2 separate regions of the Homo sapiens genome follow, and region 2 is linked to region 1. The links come from fine-mapping of genetic effects on gene expression. Tissue or cell type: testis. Region 1 holds a variant in brackets; the other region holds the start of a gene. All regions are shown on one strand. Distances are from middle to middle.

Region 1 (2,760 bases):
CAACAAGCTCTCCCCTCATGGTTACAAGAGAGCTGCCAGCAACAACTCCTGGGCTTTTTCCTTCCAGGTTAAATTCTGTTGCATATTCATTTATGGAGTTAATCACATAAGCTATATGTAACCCAATTTTCCCCAAACTTTAGCAACTTAGGACCAAATCCAGTAGAAATGAGTGAGTCTGCTTACGTGAGAGTTCAAAACAAGAGCCTAGGAATTGAGCTTCTTTTCCTGTGGCTCATCCATGGGTCAGACACCATGGTGAGGAGGAGGAAGAGTGCTGAGTGTCTGAGCTCAGGCCCTGTGCTCCCTCCAGGGCCATCACTGTCACCGGAAGTACATGGGCAGAGGTGGAGGAGGGCTGGCTCCCCAAGCAAAATTAAGGCAATGTTGCCAAAGCATAGTAAATTCTGGGCAGCAAAGACGGCAATTGTCCACAACAAACCCTATGAGATTGAAATTATTCTCATTGTACAGATGTGGAAATTGAAGGTCTCAGATGTTAAGTAACTTGCCCCAAATCATATAGTGGCATAGATTGGATTTTACCTCATTAATGTGTGCGATGAGACCAAAAGGATAGGTAGGTATCTGCCAGGCAGACTGAAGCAAGGAGGGTGCTCGAAGCAAGGATTTATGAATACACAGCAGTATGAGGGCATTAGCGGAGTGGGGGGCCTTCAGGGAACTTGGAGTTATGGGCAAAGTTATAAGACAGTGTAGCAAAGGAAAAGCTCAGGCTCTGGTGTCAGATAGATCCAGATGTTATTTGCCAGCTAAATAGGTTGCAGTGAGCAGGTTGCAGTGAGCTGAGATTGCGCTACTGCACTCCAGCCTGGGCGACAGAGCAAGACCCTGTCTCAAAAACAAAAAAAAATTACTAAGGGAGGTTTGTTTGTTTTTTTGCTTTGTTTCACATTTTAATATAGATTTCTGGACTCTCCAGGGATAGAGAGATTCCTAGGTTGAGGTATCAGGAAGTTTCCTCCCAGAAAACTGTTGATCACATAGGGGAATTCATCCACCTCCTTCCAACTGGCCAAGGATGTAACTGCTCACTTCACCTTCATCATCTGTAATACAGTGCCAGTAAGCTTCACAGAGCTCTTGGGAGGAATAAGTGAGATAGCACAAAGGAGCTAGTATAGTGCTGAGCTCAAGGAGCTCCACCAATGGTTGATATTATGGTGCTGGTGAGGATAGGT[T/C]GCACGAGGTAATGAATGGGGAAGCTGTGGGAAAATAAGACGGAAAATTAACCATGGGTCAAATCATGCTAAGATAAGGATTTTAGCTTTTACCCTCCAGAAATTGAAGAAAGATTTTGACCAGAGGGATGGCCCAATTAGTTTTTCATTTTAGAAAGATCATTCTGGCAGCAGTGTATAGCCAAGCAGCAGAGAGGTGGGGTGGGCAGGGGGAGGGTCCAAAATGGATGGCAGTGAGACCAGTTAGGAGACCATTACAATACAGTCATGTGCCACACCACGTTTCAGTCAACGATGGACCTCATGTGCTATGGTGGTCCTGTGTGATTGTAATACTGTATTTTTACTGTACCTTTTCTAATATGTTTAGATACACAATTACCATTGTGTTACAACTGACTGCAGTGTTCGGCACAGTAACTTGCTATACAGGTTTGTAGCCTAGGAGCAATAGGCTACACCATATAGCCCAGGTGTGTAGTAGGCTATACCATCTAGGTTTGTGTGAGCACACTCCGTGATATTCGCACAATGTTGAAATTACCTAACAATTTCCCCATCGTTACCCCCGTCATCAGGTGATATATGGCTATAGTTAACTTGTTCAGTGGTTGCTAAACTTAGTTCAACGTTCAAATTACTAAGGAAGGCCAGGCACAGTGGCTCACATCTGTAATCCTAGCACTTTGGGAGGCCAAGGTGGGCGGATTGCTTGAGGCCAGGAGTTCAAGACCAGCCTGGTGGACATGATGAAACCCCATCTCTACTAAAAATAGAAAAATTAGCCGGGAATAGTGGTGCACACTTGGTAGTCCCAGCTACTTGGGAGACTGAGGCAGGAGAATCACTTGAACATGGGAGGCGGAGGCTGCAGTGAGCCAAGATTGTGCCACTGCACCCCAGCCTCGACAACAGAGTGAGACCCTGTCTCAAAAAGAAAACAATTACTAAGGAGGTTTTTTTTTATTTTTTGCTTTGTTTCATGTTTTAATATAGATTCCTGGACTCTCCAGGGATAGGGAGATTCCTAGGCTGAGGTATCAGGAAGTTTCTTCCCAGAAAACTGTTGGTCCCATAGGAGAATTGATCCACCTCCTTCCCAGTGATCAGCATTGCCTAAAGGAAAACTAGAATTGTTATAGCAAGGATGTAAACACTAAGAAACAAGTGAACTTTCTGGTTTTTTAATGTTAAAACAACAACAACTCTTGAAGCCCCTGGGGCACAGGTTGGTGTAGCTAGATAAAGATTGCCTGGGATGGAAGGGATGGAGAGAATGGAATCAAGTGACACTTTGCAGGTCATTTGGTCTCACCAGAGCAAACGACCAGGAAGGAAGCAACCTTCAACGTGATGGTATTTGAAGGCGGGGCCATTGGGAGGTAATTAGGTTTAGATGACACCAGGAGGATGGGACCCTCATGATGAGGTTAGTGCCCTTATCAGAAGAGGAAGAGACCAAAACATACTCCCTTTCTCCATTGTGTGAGGACACAGTGAGAAGGTAGCCATCTGCAAACCAGGAAGAGGGCCCTTCCTCACCAGATACCAAATTTGC
Region 2 (2,608 bases), 57 kb after region 1:
AATAAATACTACAGCCTCTGCAACTAGACACTTCCTAGGGGAGAACAACAAAGAAACCACGAGGTTGGGAAAGGCAGTGCCGCATCCCACCCTTTGGGACTCTGCAGCTCGATTCTCCTGCGGCTCTACAGCAGGTCCCCAAGGCGCTGGCGCTGGGGGGCGGGGGCCGGGGACCGTGAACCCGCCTGGAACGCAGCCGGTGCCACTCCAGGGAACAGGTGAGCGCCAAGCACCAGTGAGAGTACAGCCAACTCCCTCTGCAGCCACTCCTTGCCAGAAACCTCCGTGCCCAGGAGCCCGCGCTAGGGCCAGGCTCTTAAAATCCCGGGGAGGGATGCCGGGTGATGGAGCCGACACGGAGTTATGCAGTCTGGAGAAGCAGGGATGGGTAAACACAGGCTGACAGTGGGAAGGGCCTTGCCTAGCACGACCAGGCTCGTTCCTGGACCTCACCTATGAAAAGGATCTCCTGCTGCTCCCCACTCGCACTCACAAATTACAGGCTCCAGTTCGAGCTGACCCCGGCACTCACGCTGAAGGGACTCTTGGGAAAATAACACCCGATTTTGCCTTTGCAGCCACTGTCTTCCTCCTCCGACCTGCAGTGTCAAACCTGTGCCACTCTCCGCCCCCACACACCTCTCGCAAGGTCTGGCTTCCTGCGAGCCTGGAACACAATAGGTGGTGCGGCCTCTGAGGGCCCGGGCAGCCACCCGCACTTCCCCGCCACGCGGAGAAAGCCGAGCACACAGGCCGCAGGGTGGGGGTCCGCGGGGAGAGGGTGGAAGCAGCGGGTTCTCCGCGCCTGGGGTGGCCGCTGCCCCACCCAGGCCCCCGTCTGCCCTCTACCCTTCCAGACCAATCGCTCCCTGCAGGTGCCAACGCGGTGCCCCGCACCAGGTGGCACGCGGACTTTCCCCAGAGCTCCCCGGCCTAGACGGAGTCAGGCTAAGGCAGAAGCGCGGGCAGCCCCGGCGCTACTTTACAGCGCCCCATCTGCAGCCCTGGGGTCCTCACCCGGCTCCAGGGTGCACAGCAGCCGGGGCGCGGTCCGGGAAATGCAGCTGCGCTTCTTGAGCACATTGCTCAGGATGGTGCCCACGCCGCCGCCCTGCCGCTTCAGGCATCTCCCCCCGCGCCTCAGAGACCCGGTCAGCTTGTCCTGCCGCATCCGAGAGCGCCCCGGGCTCTGGCACGGCTACCGTCCGTCTCGGTCCCCGCTACCCCACTCGCTGAGCGGCTGAGCTCGCGGAGCTGGGTGAGTGTCTGCGGCTGACCGGCCCGTGGGAGCAGGGAGCGCACAGCCGGCTGGTGCTGGAGGGTCACGGGGACTTACGGGGCACCGCGGGAGCCGCCGAGCGCAGGGAAGCCAGCAGGCATCTGCAGTGCGGAGCCTGCAAGGCTGAGGCAGGAGATCGCTCGAGGCGGGGAGGGCGGGAGCGAGCGAGCGAGCGAGCGCGTGGGAGACGGAGGCGGCGTGCCCGCCCCCAATCCCGGCACCGCCGTGCGCAGGCGGGGCCGCCCCAGCTCCCCCGTGCCCAGAAGCGCCAGAGACAGGGAGCCAGTGGGCGCGTAACTGCGTTCGGGGACCAAAAGCAGAAACAGAGATGTCCGTGCTTCTCCCAAGATCTGGGAGGGAACAGAGGGAGCACCAAGGGGCGCCAGTCTCAGGGGCAGAACACCCGTAAGGGCAAGCATCCTCTCCCACTTCCGAGCAGTCTCAGAAGGGGCCATGACCCAACCGCAGGCGGCGAGGCACACGCTTCAGCCCGAATTGCGTTGAATTATTTCCTGGCAGATTAGAGAGGCGCGGAGAAAATGAAGGAAAAAAAAATTATTGTTTCTTTTAGAAAAATGGGCTTCCAGAAAAAAAGTGTTCTCTTTTCAAGCAGTATTAAAAAGTAATGTTCCTCATCTCTCCAGCCAGACTTCAGTAGTTCTGAACTATTGCCCATCATTATGGTTTAAAAAAAAAAAAGTCATTCTCAAACGGCAATATTCACCAATAGACTATTTACCATTAAAATGGATGAAAGAAAGGGTGTGGGGGGGGGATATAAAGATACTTGTGTTTGCTAATATTTATAAAAAGAAACACTAAATGGATAAACCAAAAACAAATTAGAAAACTTGTATAGGAGAAGGAACATCGTGGAGGAGACAAGAATGGAAAACTGAGTCCTCTCTTGATGTGCCTCCTGTAGTTTTGGCTCTGGAATAACACTATATTAATAATATTAACAAATTAAATTTTTAAAAAACCAGGATGATGGAACAGCATGCCTATAGTCCCAGCTACTTGGCAGGCTGAGGTGGGAAAATTGCTTAGCCCCAAGAGTTTGAGGCCAGCTTGGGCAACATAGCGAGACCCCATCTCTTAAAAAGACATAAAAATAAAAATAAAATTTGAAAATACATAAAATAGTCTGGGCACGGTGGCTCACACCTGTATTCCTAGCACTTTGGGAAGTCAAGGCAGGAGGATGTCTTGAAACTAGGAGTTCAAAGCTGCAGTGAGCTATGATTGCACCCCTGCATTCTAGCCTGAGCAACAGACCTAGTCCCTGACTATAAATGAATAAATTATTTTTAAATTGTAAAAGAAAAC

Evidence for each region. PIP is the estimated chance that this variant, and not a neighbour inherited with it, causes the effect.
Region 2: it holds the start of TBC1D30, and the variant in region 1 is fine-mapped to the expression of TBC1D30 in testis (GTEx, PIP 0.93).

The regions. Positions count from the first base shown.
Region 1 is chr12:64,880,431-64,883,190 of GRCh38, reverse strand. TBC1D30 (TBC1 domain family member 30) reads right to left here. Exons shown (of 12, transcript NM_015279.2): 12 at 2,158-2,760. Among named protein-coding and RNA genes, the nearest start is that of LINC02389, 2.0 kb to the left of the region's middle. The variant T/C (reference allele first, on the strand shown) is at 1,203.
Region 2 is chr12:64,823,443-64,826,050 of GRCh38, reverse strand. It overlaps TBC1D30 (TBC1 domain family member 30), which reads right to left and starts at 1,404. Exons shown (of 12, transcript NM_015279.2): 1 at 1,018-1,404. The coding sequence starts at 1,171. RefSeq lists an enhancer at 199-706 and a silencer at 1,345-1,584.